Regions from separate parts of the Homo sapiens genome. Here regions 1, 3 and 4 are each linked to region 2. Evidence: fine-mapped expression QTL. A gene starts in region 2. Each other region holds a variant in brackets. All regions are shown on one strand. Distances are from middle to middle. Region 1 overlaps BTBD9 (BTB domain containing 9). Region 2 holds the start of BTBD9 (BTB domain containing 9). Region 3 overlaps BTBD9 (BTB domain containing 9). Region 4 overlaps BTBD9 (BTB domain containing 9).

Region 1 (4,000 bases), 470 kb after region 2:
TTTCTCCCAAGGACAGAAAGGGGCTGCTTTGTTCTTCTCAATTTATCCAAATCAGGCAGGTCTCAAGGGGGAGAAAATGGGTCTTCAATCTTCATCAAGTCCACCATTAACACCCTACCTCTCTAATCTAGCCCAGGCGCAGGGAACAGGAGGAAGTCATAGACAGGCCTGTGTTGGAATACAAAAATGGCACGCAAACACTCAGGCGGAGGAGAAAGCCATTGGGCCTTTGCTACCTGGAGGCACCCTTTAGGAATGGGCCTCCATAGAGTGTTCATTCTGCTGGAATACATTGCCCTGGCAACTAAATGATTTTTTATTTGTTTTAGTTATTCTCCACTCAGTGAATCATAGGTGTTCCGGATCTATTTGAAATGCTCAAACAGCAAATCACTAGTTTTAATCCCTTTTGATGCTATAATTTTCCTTCCTTGGTTTTGAACGGTTCAGCTTGCGGGGACAGAGACCCATCGTGCATGTCTCCTAAATGAGACACGGATGCAGCTCATCCTGGCACTTGGGCCACAGAGGAAGTGCCACAAATGCACACAAGCAAATCAACCTGTGGACACTGGAGTTAATAGTCACTCGTGTGGCTGAGTTACTCACCTGTCATTCCTGACATGGATCCAGCCTTTAAGCTTGGGAGGCTGACAAGGAAATAGTTACTATGCCCGCTGCTAATTCACTGTTCCGAAGTCCATGTAGATAAACATATACCGAGTTCTGGCGTGGCCAAACCTGCCGGGGACTGCCGTGGCTTAGCTGCCCCTCCAGTTGTGTTTATCGAAGCATTGGAGAGGCAGCCACCTGCCCATCAGCGTCAGGAACGCAGAACTGGGACTCCGTGCTTCCCCCACACCACAGTACTCAACTGGGGACTGAAAAATAGCAGTTCCAAGAAGCTTTTCTCCTAATCCTCATCAAAAGGACCTCATTTGACGATGGTGGCTTGATGTGGCTCCGTCTCCTACTTAGTGATTTCCATTCCAGTGCTGCCTGCCCTGGGTAACTGCGCACAACATTGCCTGCCCCTCCGCTGTCCCCAGAGCTCCGGCCTCTGTCGCCATCAGCATCAGCCTGGGAGTCTCCCCAGGACGGCATGGCACGTGAGCAGCACTGCAGTCCTTGGGTCTTCGGCGCCAACCTGCAACCCTGATCAAAGGAGGGTGAGGGCGTGGGAGTTTCCTTTCAGGTGTGTCAAAGACATATCAGCTGCGCTCTAGAAAGAGCCAACGGGTCAGCCGCTTCCTCCTAGTTTAACTTGATTTTGAGTGATTTGTCCATATGGAAATAGTAGGGTAGCATCAAACTGCGTGATTAAATTGGAAGACTGTCTTTCCGTGTGAACACAGGATGGCAGACATCAGAGGGCTACCGGGGCAGGGTGGACACGTTCCTGAGGAGAAGCCAGGGTCTGCAGCTCTCCATCCTCCCCGGTAGCTCCAGCTGCAGGGCTGAGCTGCTTCCTATCCCCTCAGCTCTGATCTCTGCCACTTCCCTGTTGTGTGGGAGAGTGGAACACTCCTGGGATGCCAGGCATTTCATAATGGGAGGAGGCTCCTGTAAGGAACGGTGGGCGCCCGCTCACAGTGGGGGGCCCTCCAGCATGGTTGCTGACTCTGTCAGCCCCCAGCCCCGGGTTGCCAATTAGCCAGAGAGCTCCTGCACACACAGCACTTCCTTCCCCAGTGTGTTTTCTACCCAGATGGGGACAAAGGAGCCAGACAGTCATATCAAGGGCAGAGTTCAAACATTTTGAAATGAGCCATTCACATGCTTCTTTTTAAACATGGGCATCACCTGCCCAGAGGCCCTTGGCCTGAAGCAGCATGCTGCTGACCTTGGGAAGAGAGGGTGGGCTGGTGGGGGTGCTGGAGGAGCTGCCCGGCCCTGCATCTGCAACCCTCCAGTCCCCTGCCCACAGAGCACGCAGAGCCCTCCTGTGCTCCGGGAACGAGATAGCAGCTTGGCAGCTCGGCCTCGCATCTGAAAAGGAATACGCTGCAAAGCCTCGGCCCTAGACCCACATCTGCAGCTCCCTGGCCTGTGGCGGTTCTTTCCTTCGGGGCATGCCCTTCCAGATCTCTGTCCCTCCTGTCTTC[T/C]AGCACTTTAAAGATGCCCCTTATCATCAGATAAAGAGAAGTATGGGGACGATGGGGTGGCACTAACAGTAGATGTCATTGGTGAGGACTGATGGCAAAGTCTCATTCCCTCACAGCCGCGCTGCCAGCTCGCCTCCCCCTCGCTTTGCTGGGAGCCTGCCCTGGACTCCAAAAGGACACGGGTTCACCTCCTTTCCCAGGCTGGAGGGGTACTGCCCTTCCCTGAGGGGCCTTCTGACTGGGGCAGGAACTCTTTTCGTGTGTCCAGCTGGGCCTGGAGGCCAAGTCAAGGTGTGTCACACCACACACCAGGGCAAGGACCTCATCTCCAGGGAACAGGGACAAGTGAGTGGCTACCAGAAAGTCCCCGGGCAGCCTGGAGTTCCCCAGAGCCTGGCTGGTCCTACAGAGCACTTCTCCCCTGGGCCACCAGGACCAAAGCGACCTAAACACTTGAAGCTAAAAGCAAGTGCTGATGATGGGATGGGCTGGCACGTGGCTGGGAGGGCTCCTGGGCACCACAGAGCCCTCAGCCCAGCAGAGAGTGGAGGCTCAGTCCGTGGGGAGCGGGGGTTGTGAAGGAGACATGGCCAAGCCCCTGGTCGGGGAGATAAGCTCCCCCATGCCCAGGCCAGCCCCAGGGGCAACAAGCCAACATGGAGAGAGGTGGCAGGTGAGGCTGACAGGTGGGTGCCTGTGGCCTGGGCCCATGAGGGCAATGGTCCTCAGTAACCAATGGAAAGGACACAAGGGCGCCATGGTCACCACCACCCAGGCAAAGAAATGGGAGGTGGCCAGCACCCCCACCCTTCACTTTTCATTATTATTATTATTATTATTATTATTATTTTTTTTTTTTTTTTTTTTTTTTTTTTTTTTTTTTGAGAGTAGAAAGGCAACTTCATTGGAGCTTTTGGGGAAAAAAGCCTTCAAAGTCACCTTCTGGCAGCTCTGGGGAGGGTCATTTGGGGTGGACTGAGAGTGTAGGGCAGGTAGGGTGTGTGCTGGGCAGCAGCTGTGTCCATGCAGCCAGCACCCAGCAGGGCAGTCTCACAGGAGCCGTTGTGAGCACTTTGGACTTGAAGCAGCTATGAACCACCCCCCGCCCCCACCGTCTCTCCCTCTCACACACACACACACACACACACACACACACACACACACACACACACACCCGTTTTACCATTTTCTCAGTGCTTTTTCTGCTTTCATTCCTTTGATTTTAGTTAGAAGCACAAGCCATGATGGATGTGGGACTCTTCTCAATTGCTCTTTAAATTGTCACTTTTTAAATCCTATTAAATGAAGTGTCGATTCCTGACAAATACATTAAAAGTGTTTTATTCCTAGAAGAGTTGGGAAAAGAAATTATTTTCAGCAAGAGTAGGATGTTTGTTAAACTGATTCCTTGGCAAAAAAGAGAAAAAAAGCTTTTGAATTGTGCAAAAAATTGCCCAGTATTATGCTGTCGCCCCAGTTGTCAAACTGCTGTGCAGATGGCTCCAGCCCAGTCAACTTCACCTTCTTTTTAATTTAGAAGATAACAAAATTGTAATCACTTATCCTTTCCAGAGCCAAGGGGGAAAAGGAAGGTATAATCTACAATAAAAAGCGAGCGTTCTGTGTACTGAGGCCACTTGGTGATAAAGAGATGGAGCGCTCCCCTCACAGACTTCAATTAAGAACCTCCCTTTGGACAGGGAAGAAAGGTGTCAAAGAGGAAAAGAAAATTAAATTTGCTTCCTTCCAGGAGTTTTTCCTCATTAGTGCTTGCTTGTCGGTGTTATTATTTTAATCTTACCTTCTATGTGGTGACCAGCTCCTCCGAGCGATGCCCAGGTCGGGCACGGCCCGGGCAGGGCAGGTCTGCAGCGATGCCGTGGCAGAGGTGGGCA
Region 2 (4,629 bases):
CTGTACAGTTTGAGTGTTTATTGGACATTTTTCTCTAGATGTGGAGGTTCCATCAGGTCACAGTCATATTGCTATAGTCTCTGAGGGGACCTACTGAATTGTACCCTTCTTTTCCAGGTAATGGAGAAAGCTGCAGGAAACCAACTATTATCTTTATTACTGACTGTATCAGTTTCCTATTGCTGTTGTAACAAGTTAGCACAAACTTGGTACCTTAAAACATACAAGTTTCTTATCTCGCAGTTCTAGAAGTCAGAAGTCCTAAAATCAAGGTGTTGGCAGGGCTGTGTTCTTAGGGTGCTAGAGAAGAATCCATTTCCTTGCCTTCTCCCGCATCTACAATTTGCTTGCGTTTCTTGGGTCCATCTTCAAAGCCAACAGTATAGCATCTTCAAATCTCTGTCTGACCTCTGCTTCCATCATCACATCTCCTTCTCTGACTCTGACCCTCCTGCCTCCAGCCCAGTCAGACAATCCAGGATAATCTCCCTAGATACATCATTTAATCATATCTGCAAAGTCCCTTTTGCCACATAATATAACATATTCATGGGTTCTGAGTATTAGGGTGTGGTCATCCTTTTTTTTTTGGTTGGGGGGGATCATTATTCTGTGTAACACAGCTGACAAAGCTGGTATTAAATATTATCTGTGGACAGACAGCTTCCTAATGCCAAACTCTGGAATTAAATACATATACTCTCTTTGTAGCCCTGGACTAGGCACCCTTGTCCCTACCCACAGGCCCTGCTCCAGAAGAAACGGAAAAGAACACCAGGACAGTTCCCTGAAGATAGTTATCTTTTAAGAGAAAAAGAATGGGATAGATGCCACATGTCCAGTTTCTCCCATTTAAGTTCACCAATCAGGAAGTCACTCCTCTAGGCAAGAGTGAGTTGCAGACAGGTATAAGAGAAACCAGGAGAGTATTACACTAATGGATATCATTCCATATGGAAGAAAGACATTGTGAATGGAGAGTAAATGTTTCCCTAACAAACATATCCATATTTGAACTCATCATCATACTCCACATATCTGGTCATCCTCCTAAGAAATGTCACCATCACTATCTATAATAGTAACTTAGACACTTGTGGATAATCAAGACTCATGTAGCTTGCCATCTTGCTAAATGTTACCACTGTCTACCTCAGCACTCATGCTAGAAACCTGGCCTACTCATTTATCCGCACTCAGTGCTGTGAATTCTACCACCTTAATGGCGCTAACATCTATCCCCTCCTCTATTCCCACTGCCAATGCCTTGTTTAATGTTCTTATCACTTGTCTGGAGTACTGCAATGGCCTAAAAATGGGTCTCCCTGCCCCAAGCCTTGCTTTTCCTGACCATTTTCACTTTCTACTTTTACTCATGAAGCTTCCTTTGCCCGGAATTAAGTCCTTCCCAATTTGTCTCCTCCAACAACTGCAAGGGCGGTCCCCTAGCTTGCTCCAGCGTCGGGGATAACTGACTTTCCTACACCAGCTACAGTCAGACCTGCACCCGGATTTCTAGGACTCTTATCTATGTAGATAGATAAATACATTTTTTTGAGACAGTGTCTTGCTCTCACTGCAGAGGCTGGAGTGCAGCGGCGCGATCACGGTTCACTGCAATCTTGAACTCCCCAGGTTCAAGCGATCCTCCCACCTCAGCCCCCCGAGCATTTGTGACTACAGGCGCGCGCCAACATGCCCATTTAGTTTTTGTCTTTTTTGTAGAGACGGGGTTTCACTATGTTACCCAGGCTGGTGTCGAACTCCTGAGCTCAAGCGATCCGCCCACCTCGGCCTCCCAAAGTGCTGGGATTACAGGCTTGAGCCACCAAGTCAAATGGGCTTTATACTTACAAAGTACCTTTGCATACCTTATTTCATTTTCACCTCACAATTCTCCAGCGTAGGCTGGACCGGTATTATTATGCCCATTTACTGAGAGAGGAAACTGAGAGTCAAGGCTGGGCCAGTCACACCCTGCTGCGAAATTAACGAGCATCACTTAGCAGCCTCGACATTAACCGCGCTCGCGCTCTCATCCCTTTCTGGTCCTACTCCTTGGAGAACCTTCCTGCACCTCCAAGAACTTGCCGATCGGGTCTGCGGCGGTCTGGACGAGGTCACTCCACAGGCGCCCAGGACCTTCTCATCCGTAGTGACGTGCGCCGGTGACGCCATACAGTGACGTGTGGTGACTCGACTTACCCGGAGCCAGGTGCCGGCAGGGCAGCCACACCCTGGGGCCCCCTGTTCTGGAGGGGCAGAGGGTCGGGCCGATGCGAAAAAGCCGCGGAAGCTGCCTTAGGCGACTTTCTGGGCCTGCATCGCCGGACCCAGCAGCCCGCTGTCGATCGGTTGCTAAGTGACGCCAGCGCGCAGTGGCGCGTGCGCGGCCACGGCGGAGTGCGTGAAAGCGGACGCGCGCCGCAGCAGCCGGGGCGGCGGCGAGGACGGCGGCCACGGAAGCGGCCAAGGGGGCGGTGGCGCAGAGAGGGGTGCGGAGCGGGCGGAAGAGGCGTCTGTGTCGCAGCTTGGTCTCAGAGGAGCATCGCTGGGGTGAGTAGCCGGGTCCTTGCAGGGGAGGTGGGGCCTGGCCGCACCTGCGGCGCGGGGACGCGCGCCCCCGCCGTATCCGCGCGCACCGCCCCCCGCCCCTCCGCCGCTTTTTCCGGGGGCGGGGGAGGAGCTGGGACGGGGCCTGACGAGGGTCATTTCTTGGGCCCGGGTGCTCTGGGAGAGCGGTAGCCGTCCCGTTCGCAGTCCACGAAGGTGTAGTGGGAAGTAGACGTTTCGGGGATTCGGGGTGGCTCTACCAGCCTCCCAAAGAGAGGAGTTCGAATCAGGGGCAGCCCAGGTTCCCTAGCAGTCTCGTATCCTGTCTGAGACGACGTTGCCTGGGACTGAGGAGGCGAAACCCGGGACCCCGGGGTGGGGGTTTGGAAAGTTTGGGACTGCTGGGGCCCTCATCTCCCCTGCCCTGGCCAGCCTCTGAGTAGGAGCTGGTTGTTATGGAGAGAGTTGTGAATCAGTGCCTGCGTGCGGCATCAGACACACCCACGACCTTGGGAGGGCGACCTGTCAGTATAGATCCGGGGCAGCCAACCTGTTGCCTAGAGTTTCTAACTTCACATGTATGTGCATGTGTTTCCTTGGCGTTTTAGTACATTGTTGTTACAGATTTTGAGACCAAGGTGCTGATAGGCATCCTCATTTCTTACTTCCTCATAGACTTAGTTATCTTGCTATATTTCCCAGAACCGTGTTGTGCTTTTGTCATTAGTAGATCCAAGGAAGTATGGAAGCATGTTTTGTTTGTTTTTCCTAAAGGCAGTACAGGCTGCTATTTTCTGGGCAGAAAATACGGATTCTGTTCACTGTGTGGGCGGAAAGTGTTGATGATGGGAGAACCCAGCATGTAAAGGTGTAGCTCATCCTCAGCCCTGTGCTGTCTTCTCAGTGCTCTGGACTCTATCATGGGTAGATGTATAGGGGTTGTGGTTACCATACTTGGGAGCGAGGAATATTGGAGACAGGGAAGAAGCCAGTCTTTTCTTTCTGTTGATTAAGGCAATTTGTAGAACCAGTGAAAAGATAGGCTGTACTGAAATCTAATGTTTTGTGTAAGAGGATAGAGGAAAATAAGTTCAAGGTTCTCATTTAGGTCTAAAATTCTATGATTCTGTTTCATAACTGAGAATCTGTAAAGTATGTTACCTCTTGGAACCAGTAATAACCTTGCTTTGTAACACTTATTAGATTACTCGGAATTCAAAGTGTCTTCCTCCCTCCACTGTAATAGCTTTTAGGACAGGAGTCATCTGTGTTTTCCTCCTTGCCCTATGTCTAACACATAGGAAAAATGTGCTTGCCACAGAGTAGGCATGCAATGGATATTTGTTATATAGCACACTATGCTCAAGTGGTGTATCTATGTATAGAAAGCATTGAGTTCAGTCCATCAAGTACTTAATACATGTGCCTCCCTCTGCCCAGTATCATGATAGGTGTGGGAGGAGGATTATGGAGTGAAAAATGACATAGAAGACCTGTCTTTTTTTTCCCTTTGAGAGCAGTAGTCTAGCTAGGAGATGTATAAAATAATTATAAAACCAAGTTAAGTAGCAGGTAACCAGTGCTGTTTGAGGACTATAAATGTGGTAGAAAATCAGAAAAGATAGGATGTGTAGGCTGAGTTAGGGAACTCTTTGAAAGAGGCAAGATTTGACTTGGTCTCTGAAAGAAGTTAAAATTTGTTAGGAAATAAACCAGGAGCTGAGAAAATAATAATGTGAATTTGGTTGTTGGAGGATATACCAAGACGACTTTTATGTCTGGTAACTGGAGCGGAACGTCTCTTATAGGGGAATACTGGAGAGAGATGGCTTAGCAGGTTGGGAAGGCAAAGTGTTAAGGATTAAGGCGGGCTTATCAGCATCCCACTGTTAACAAGATACAGCCTTCTTGTAAGGTGGGATAGAGGTTGTATTAATCAGAGTACAGTCTTTGACAAGAATAAGTGTTATCCTTACTTGAAAGTAAAGGATATTACGCTTGAACCAATATCAGGTTGTTAATATACTTTTGATTTCAATTACTAATTGGAATCGATGCCTCACTAATGTGCATGTA
Region 3 (4,629 bases), 460 kb after region 2:
TGACCCCAGACCTGGGCAGATGAGTACCCAGGAGCCTCCCAGCAGTGAGACGCATGGAGACAGCAGCTTGTGAGGGTCCCCTCAGATGTGTCCCATTGCTGTGCCAGCAGTGAGGGGTGATGCTGGAAGCCTCGACGCAGCTGGAGCCCTTTGAGACAGAAGGTACATGCGGAGCCTGGTCACACAAAGTGAAGAACCGCCCAGGCAGCTGGAGACACATGGGCCAGCCCTGTGGGGAGAGCAGGGCCATGGCTAGGCTCTCTTGGTGCCTGTCTGGTGTGGGAAGGGGGCCCTGGTGAGGCCACATCTATCAGGTGGGGAGATTCAGGCATCCCAGAAGCCTGCGAACAAGAACACTTCCCTTTTTTTGTTTCTTAGTTTTTCAAAAAAATAACTAAAAGATACCTCTACCACTCTATAGCCGAATCCATTAAGACAAGAAAGTAACTCTCTCCCTGGAACTCTGGAGTGTACACACATAAAAAACAGGGCAGGAATTCCAGGGCTGCCTGGGGTGATAGGGATTGGAAAGCCTCTTCTTCCAGAACCTTCCAAGCATCAGAGTTCCAATTATCTGTGGATATCCTGGCCTATGTGAATATGAGAAAATGATATTGTAAAGTTTTTTTAAAAGCTGTTGCCGTACATAAGCATTGTCACCCAGAAACTTACCTCCATACTTAGTGCAAAAATATTTGGGTATCCTATCACCCTAAGCAATACTGAAAATTTGTTGCTCGCAATTTGGAAATGTCTCCCTATGAAGTAATTCCTAGTTTTGTTTTTTGTTGTGTTTGTTTGTTTGTTTGTCTTTGAGACAGAGTCTCGCTCTGTCTCCCGGCTGGAGTGCAGTGGCGCGATCTCGGCTCACTGCAACTTCCGCCTCCCACGTTCAAGCAATTCTCCTGTCTTAGCCTCCCGAGCAGCTGGGATTACAGGCATCTGCCACCACACCTGGCTAATTTTTGTATTTTTAGTAGAGACCAGGTTTTGACACGTCGGCCGGGCTGGTCTCGAACTCTTGACCTCAAGTGATCCGCCTCTCTCAGCCTCCCAAAGTGCTGTGATTATAAGGTGTGAGCCACCATGCCCGGCCCCTAACTGAAAACAATGTGTTGGGCTGTTCAGATGCACATAAAAAACCAAGGTTTATCAAAAGGGATATTTTGTTGGAGGCACTCGTCTTCATTTTTAAAGAACAAAAACAAAACATCTCTGCAGTCTGTAGATGGACTGTTACCTTCTGCTCTGAGGCGAGCATAAGAGAGATGTTAATGGTGACCATCGTCAGGATCTGTTATGTCACTGAACGCTGGGTGGGTGTGTGATGCCACCACATCAGCCACTGTGAAAGGGAAATAGGGGATCTTTAGGGGAGTGTAAGTTAGAAGTCATGGCTTTGCATCTGACTTATGGACAGACATCAAGAGGTAGATATCTATTTTATAAAGATTTGTCAACTTGTATTTGTAAGTTGAAAACTTGGATCAGAAATCCTATTTGTATTGGTTGGCATGAAAGCAGTCTGTGGAAATTATTCAGGAGGAACCAGGAAAGCAAGGCAGAGTCATTGATCAACATTTATTAAATTTCCCCAATTTCTGCTGCAGTTCACAGTGGACTCTTAGGCCAACTTGGGAAAATTAGCAAAGGCTTCTGCTTTTAAAAACCTTGAAAATTTGTCAAGCAAATAGTGCTTAGGGAATCCCTCTAATGAGAGGCAGCAGCCACCAAGCCACTGAGGAATTAGCCTGGTCACCAAGAAGGGGCTAGCACATTTGTGTACATCCTGTCCAGGATTCACGGGGAAAAGAACACCCAGCCTATCTCCAGTATGTGGTGAATTATGGCTCCCAGAGAGGCAAGGCAAAGTGATCATAAACAGCAGCTACAGAAAAGGACACCCGATTGTGACTGAGGCTGTGTCGGATTCATACACACGACCACATTCCAAATTAGCCGGCTTCTCTCAGGGGAGAGATCCAGAGGCCATTGAAGACGGTTCAGCGAAGGCGCCCCTTTGTGAGCAGCGGCAATCAAACAGGCTAATGGGATACATGATTGCTGAAAAGGGGAAGGGAGACTGATGCGGCGGCCAGAGTAATGGTTTTGCATAAATGAGTAGTGCGGCTCTGCCCAGTGTGTCTCAGCCACATTTGGTCACGTCCTTTCCAAGAGGTATTGCAGTCTTGGGAAAGTTTGGAGAAAAGAAATTGAATCACTTGAGCTTCTGAGCAAAGAGACTCAGGACTTGGCTGTTCCACCTAGAGGGAAGCCCAAAGGTGCCTGGTGGAAAGAAGTGGGCTGAGGAGCTTGGGGTTACGGTGGGAAGGGGAGGGCCACATGCCCAATATTTCCAGATTTCCCCCCTACCATGGCAGTGATGACTTCCTCCAAGCTGCCATCACCCTCCTCCAGCTCCTGTGTATAAAAAGCACTGCCGCCTCCCTTCCCTCACACTCCTCTCCAAGGGCCGGAGGCAGCTTCACGCCCAGCCCCAGCAGCGTGGCCACCAGTGAAGGTGCCAGTTTCCCCACGACAGGCTTGCTTTTCACTCCCGCTCCCAAGAACAGAATCGGGACCACCCACAGGCCCCCCCGAATGCCCATTTGCATTGCGTGCAAATCTGAGGATTTCTGGGATCCCAGGAGAAGTAACCCCAGCCTCGTACATGTTGATGGGCATCCGAGTGGTCCAGGA[G/C]CTAGCTGGGTATTGGCTTACACAGTTGCCACATTTGGCTGAAGGCTGCTAGGCTTAAATCATCAACAGAGATGACTGAGGCAGGCACACTGCTCCACAGAGGGGTGACCAGAGTGAATTACAGACAGGCTGCCAGGAGTGAGGTGCCAAGGCCCAGATCTTTATGTGGAAATCTTCTCCTCGTTCCCTTTGCCTGGAAAGCAGCTCCCCTCCCTGCCTCCCAACCCCTCAAGGCCTCACCTGTGCACACCTTCCTCTCTGTAGCCTGCCCTGACCCCTCTTCCAGGCAAAATTAGTTTCTCACACACCTCTGATGTATGAAATATTACTGATCCCGTGCTGGTAGAATTGTTTGTGTGAGGCAGGTATGTTGATACAGTGGAACAGTCCAGGCTTAAGGAAGGCACAGCCCTGAGGTTCATTCCCAGCCTGCCACTCGCCATTTGCAGAAGAGTGAACACAGGCCCCTGCACAGAGGTGCCTCTGCCCCCAACTGCCTGAGAGGTCCTGAGGGCAGGAGCTGCGCTGTGGGCGCACCTGCTGGAGTCTGCACTCAGTGAAATCATTGCAGGGAAAGGGTCTGTGAGAGTCCTTGGCATGAGTGCAGGTCTGAGCTGCTGTAACTGGAGCCCTGGGACCTGCTGCTGCCACCTTCTGTAGCACCGCAGTATGCCCGCCCCCGTCCCTTCCAGGGAACCCTGAGAGTCATTGTGGGCGCTCTCCTTTATCAGTCTCATCCAGTCTGTTACCAAATTCTGATCTTTCTTGATTTGAAAATGACTCCTGCCTATTGATTCCAAATTGCTAAATCAGGGGATTCCAAGGTTTAAAGGTTTGTTGTCATCTAGATTTTTAAAATACTTGTTATTTGAATTTGTCACCACAAATGTATATTCCTTTTTAAATAACTTTTTTAGTTTAAGAAATATTAGTTTTTAAAGAGTCTCGTAGGCTGGGCATGGTAGCTCACGCCTGTAATCCCAGCTCTTTGGGAGGCTGAGGTGGGCGGATCATGAGGTCAAGAGATCAAGACCATCCTGGCCAACATGGTGAAACCCCATCTCTACTAAAAACACAAAAATTAGCTGGGTGTGGTGGCACGTGCCTGTAGTCTCAGCTACTTAGGAGGCTGAGGCAGGAGAATCGCTTGAACCTGGGAGGCGGAGGTTGCAGTGAGCTGAGATAGCCCCCCTGCACCCCAGCCTGGCGACAGAGCGAGACTCTGTCTCATAAATAAATAAATAAATAAATAAATAGCCTCCTTTGTCCAAGAGTATCAGGATCCCTGCCCAGCTTAAGGCCAGGCCCTCGCCCTGTCCCATTGGGTGTGGCCTCTGCCCCACCCCTCCCCCCCACACCCTGCTGCTCCCAGGCCCTCCTTGCTCTGTTGCCACCCTTTGGCTTGAGAACCTGTGTAGTTCTTCCTGTTTTTCTTCCACACCAAGTCCCCCCCTCCTCCATCCTCTCTAGCTTGGCTGCCTCTTCCTTCCAGACTCACCTCAGATGTCTCCTCCCCCAGGAAGCCTTCCCTGACCGCCTGCCTGGCTGGGTCCCACTCCTCTATGCCCTGGGGCTCCTTCTCCCTGGCTTATGTGTCTGCTGGCCTCACTGGACCGTACACCCTCTGAGGGCAGCTGGGACCTCGCCCAGTCAGGCACGTAGGAGGTGCTTCATGCTTGTGGTACGTGTGTACCTCCTGACCCTGCTCACGTGTGCAGCGTCATCCTCTGGCCGTGTCTGCTGCATATGTGATGTTCATCCTGTCTCTGTTGGTGTGCAGAGGCTGTTCCCTCCCCACCTGTCACCTGTAGCTTGCCCACCCCCACCCATGGCAGGTTCTGTGTCTTCACCCGCCTATCCATTTGTAAAAACACTCTTTTCCACTTAGAATCTTCGCCACACAGTTTGTGATTTAATACAGGTAACTCA
Region 4 (4,629 bases), 440 kb after region 2:
TTCCTAATTACATTACTGGAATTATCTATTGTGTTCCTACTTTGAAAGATAAGGATTTAGTTTCATTGCCCTCTGCCCTTGCAAGTACACACATGCACCTGTCTGCTTCATCCTCCTGTTTAGTTAAATCACAGTTTTTCTTTGTATCAGATTTCTTGTTGGCATTAGGATGACTATGTAACTATCGTTCAGAGCCAAGCCATGTAGTGTACTATGATCACCTTTTTTTTTTTATCATTTGTTTTCCCTAGAGTTAAAAAGTGGCCAGGTGCAGTGTCTCATGCCTGTAATCCCAGCACTTTGGGAGGCTGAGGCAGGTGGATCACGTGAGGTCAGGAGTTCAAGACCAGCCTGGCCAAGATGGTGAAACCCCATCTCTACTAAAAATACAAAAATTAGCTGGGCATGGTGGCAGGTGCCTGTAATCCCAGCTACTTGGGAGGCTGAGGCAGAGAATTGCTTGAACCCGGGAGGTGGGTTCAAGCCTCCCAAGCTGGGAGGCGAGGTTGCAGTGAGCCAAAATCATGCCACTGTACTCTAGCCTGGCAACAGAGCAAGACTCCATCTCCAAAAAAAAAAAATTGCTTAGTTTTCTGTATACCTATCCTTCATTAATTTTCTGTGTACTATCACTGATTCTTCCCCCACAACACAATTTGTGTTGTCAGAGCAACACAAATTCTTGTAACCTGGTTAATACATCTGGTCAATTAGTTTCTCTTTCTCCCTTGAGATGTTCCCATAAGCTGCCCGCCTTCCCTCTGCAGTCTGGACTAGTTGTCCTGTGGGCCTGTTTTACGGCTCTCATCCTGGGATCTCCCATCCCATTATCTTAGGAATTCTTCTTGCCTTTATTCCATTTCACATTCTCTGTTTTGTGGATCCCATAACTTCCTTTCTTTCTTTCTTTCTTTTTTTTTTTTGAGACAGACTCCTGCTCTCTCAGGCTGGAGTGCAGTGGCACAGTGTTGGCTCACTGCAACCTCCGCCTCTTAGGTTCAAGCAATTCTCATGCCTCAGCCTCCTGAGTAGCTTGGAGTACAGGTGCGCACCACCATGCCTGGCTAATTTTTGTATTTTTAGTAAAGAAGGGGTTTTGCCATGTTGGCCAGGCTGGTCTCGAACTCCTGGCCTCAAGTGATAGTATCCCATAACTTTCTTTATCTTAAGTTGGTCCTTTGTTTTGGTGGAACACATTTTCTGGTAGTTCCTTGTGAATGCATTGGAGGTGAAGTTTTTATTTTATTATTTTTATTTTTCTTCGCATAAATACAAAGAGAGGATGAAGGTGAATTTTTTTTATGCCTGAATGACAATTTCTTTATTCTGTTCTCATACTTCATTTACTTTGTCTGGGAATGGTCACTAATTTTTCCCTCAGCATTTAGAAGGAAGTGATCTATTATCTTCTCACCCCCAGTGTTGCTTTTGAAAAATTTATGTGAACCTGATTCCCAGGTCTTTGTGATGACCTGCTTTTTCCCCCTCCAGAACTTTTAAGATCTTCCAAAGTTTCTTAATAATATACTTTGGTGCGGATCTTTTCTCATTTCTTGTAATGGCTACTTAGTAGGATCTTTAACCTGGAATCTTATGTCCTTCATATGTGGGAAAATTTGTTGTGTGACTTTGGCACTTTCCTAGCTCATATTTTCTCTGGAACATCATATTTCTTACTGGAACATCTAAATTAGATGGTGGAATTCCTCATTTGATTCTTCTATTCTCTTATACTTTCTCTTCTATTTTTTATCTTTGTCATTTGATTTGACATTCTGGGAAATTTCCTCAACTTAACTTTCTAACCCATTTGTTGAATTATTTATGTCGCTCATAGTTTTAATTTACAAGAGCACTTTCTTGTTCACTAAATGTTATTTTTTCATATCATTTTATTTATTCCTATTTCAAAGATGTAATAATGCTTCCTTTTATCTTTCTGAGGATAATTTAGGGTTTTTTTTTCCTGAAGCTGTATTCTGCTTACTGAACTGTATCCATGTCCTCTGAGTCATTACTTTTCTCTATTTGCTGTTGGTCATCTTTCATGTTACAGTCTTTTTTTGAACATTTTAAACAGCTTTATTGAGATACAATTCATATACCATACAATTCACCCACTGAAAGTGCACAATTCCATGGCTTTAGTATATTCACAGAGTTTGCATCCATCACCATAATCAATTTTTGAACATTTTCATTACTC[C/T]AGAAAGAAACCACATACCCAATAGCCATCACCTCCCAATCCCCCCAGTTAATTCCCCAGCCCTAGGCAACCACTAATCTACTTTCTGTCTGTATATTCTATACATTTCATATAAATGGAATCATACAATACATGATCCTTTGTTATTGGCTTCTTTCACTTAGCGGGTTCATCATATTATATTAATAGCGTGTATCAAAATCTTATTATTGCTGAACAGTATTCCAGTGTATGGATATACTACATTTTATCTATCCATTCATCAGTTGATGGACATTTGGGTTGTTTCCACTTTTTATTATGAATAATGCAGCTGTGAAGATTCATGAACAAGTTTTTGTGTGGACATGTGTTTTCATTTTTCTTGGGTATGTATCTTGAAGTAGAATTTTTGGATCATATCACACCTCTCTATTTAACCACCTGAGGAACTGCCAGGTTGTTTTCCAAAGTGGCCACACCTTTGAACATTCCCACAAGCAGTATATAGGGGTTCCAGTTTCTTCACATTTTCATCAACAGTTGCTGTTATCTTTTTTTAATTTTTAATTTTATTGATACATAGTGTTTTACATATTTATGGGCTACATGTGAATGCTTTTTACATGCATAGAATGTGTAATGACCAAGTCAGGTTATTTGGAGTATTCATCATCTTGAGTATTTATCATTTCTATGTGTTGGTAGCATTTCAAGTCCTTTTAGCTACTTTGAAATATACAATACATTGTTGCTAACTATAGTCACCCTAGTCTGCTATGGAACATTAGAACTTATTTCTTCTAACTAACTGTAAATTCCTACCTATTCACCCCCCTTTCTTCATTTCCCCCTTCCACCTTCACACCCTTCCCACCCTTTGGCATCTATCATTCTGTTCTCTATCTTCATATGATCAAGTTTTTTAGCTCCTACATATGAGAGAAAACATGTGGGGTTTGTCTTTCTGGGCCTGAATGATATCACTTAACATAATGACCTTCAGTTTCATCCGTGTTGCTGCAAATGACATGATTTCATTCTTTTTTATGGCCAAACAGTATTGCATTATGTAAATATACCACATTTTCTTTACCCTTACGTCCATTGATGGACACTTAGGTTGATTCCATCTCTTTGCTATTGTGAATAGTGCCACATTAACATGTGAGTGCAGATATCCCTTTGAAATACTGATTTCTTTTTTTTTGGATAGATAGCCAGAAGTGAAATTGCTGGATCATTTGGTAGATTGCATGTTTCCAGAAATTTATCCATTTCCTATAGTTGTACTTTTAGATTTTTAAAAATTTATTTCTCAGCTTGAAAAATAGTAGTAGTTTATTGAGAAATCTCTATACTGTTTTCCATGGTTTCTGTACTAATTTACATTCCCACCAACAGTGTATAAGAGTTCCTTTTTCTCTTCATTCTTACCAACATCTATTATTTTTGTCTTTTTAATAATAGCATTCTAACTGAGGTAAGATGATATCTCATTGTGGTTTTGATTTACATTTTCCCAATGCTTAGTGATGTTGAGCATTTTTTCATATACCCTTTGGCTATTTGTATGTCTTCTTTTGAAAAGTGTCTATTCATGTCCTTTGCCCATTTTTTAATGAAATTTTTATTTGTACATTCTGGATATTAGTCCCTTGTTAGATGAATAGTTTGCGGGTATTTTCTCCTATTCAACAGATTACCTTATCACTCTATTGATTATTTACTTTGCTGTGCATAAATTTTTAAATTTAATACAGTCCCATTTGGCTAGACCAATATCCTGAACTGGTTTCCCTATGTTTTCTTCTATTATTTTTATAGTTTCAGGTCTTACATTTAAGTCCTTAATCAATCTTGAGTTGATTTTTGTATATGATGAGAGATAGGGGTCCAGTTTGCATATGGATATCCAATTTTCCCAGCACCATTTATTGAAGAGGGTATCCTTTCCCTGGTGTAAGTTCTTGGTTCCTTTGTTGAGTATCAGTTGGCTGTAGATATGTGGATTTATTTCTGGGTGTTCCAGTATACTCTGTTGGGCTGTTTTTATACTCATACCATCTGTTTTGATTACTATAGCCTTGTACTATATTTTGAAGTCAGGTAGTGACTGCAAAGCCTCTAGCTTTGTTCTTTTTTCTTAGGATTGCTTTAGCTATACTGGCTCTTTTTTGGTTCTACATGAATTTTAGGATTTTTTTTTTCTGTTTCTGTAAAAAATGACATTTTTGGGCTGGGTGCAGTGGCTCACGTGTGTAATCCCAGCACTTTGGGAGGCCGAGGTGGTTCATTAGGTCAAGAGATGGAGACCATCCTGGCCAACATGGTGAAACCCCATTTCTACTAAAAATACAAAAAAATTAGCTGGGTGTGGTGCCGCACACTCATAGTCCCAGCTACTCGGGAGGCTGAGGCAGGAGAATCGCTTGAGCTTGTGG

The links. PIP is the estimated chance that this variant, and not a neighbour inherited with it, causes the effect.
Region 1: its variant is the best candidate, but not a certain one, in a credible set for the expression of BTBD9 in blood mononuclear cells (TOPMed, PIP 0.67).
Region 3: its variant is the best candidate, but not a certain one, in a credible set for the expression of BTBD9 in whole blood (TOPMed, PIP 0.55).
Region 4: its variant is the best candidate, but not a certain one, in a credible set for the expression of BTBD9 in whole blood (TOPMed, PIP 0.58).

What each region holds. Positions count from the first base shown.
Region 1 is chr6:38,170,835-38,174,834 of GRCh38, reverse strand. It overlaps BTBD9 (BTB domain containing 9), which reads left to right. Exons shown (of 11, transcript NM_001099272.2): 11 at 1-4,000. Among named protein-coding and RNA genes, the nearest start is that of BTBD9-AS1, 310 kb to the left of the region's middle. The variant T/C (reference allele first, on the strand shown) is at 2,106.
Region 2 is chr6:38,637,727-38,642,355 of GRCh38, reverse strand. It overlaps BTBD9 (BTB domain containing 9), which reads left to right and starts at 2,427. Exons shown (of 11, transcript NM_001099272.2): 1 at 2,427-2,556. It overlaps LOC105375044 (a long non-coding RNA gene), which reads right to left and starts at 1,961. Exons shown (of 3, transcript XR_926767.4): 1 at 1,872-1,961. RefSeq lists enhancers at 2,085-2,164, 1,965-2,465 and a silencer at 2,565-2,764.
Region 3 is chr6:38,178,172-38,182,800 of GRCh38, reverse strand. The region is part of intron 10 of BTBD9 (BTB domain containing 9); the gene reads left to right. LOC124901315 (a long non-coding RNA gene) reads right to left here. Exons shown (of 2, transcript XR_007059571.1): 2 at 1-4,629. Among named protein-coding and RNA genes, the nearest start is that of BTBD9-AS1, 300 kb to the left of the region's middle. The variant G/C (reference allele first, on the strand shown) is at 2,701.
Region 4 is chr6:38,202,174-38,206,802 of GRCh38, reverse strand. The region is part of intron 9 of BTBD9 (BTB domain containing 9); the gene reads left to right. Among named protein-coding and RNA genes, the nearest start is that of BTBD9-AS1, 280 kb to the left of the region's middle. The variant C/T (reference allele first, on the strand shown) is at 2,207.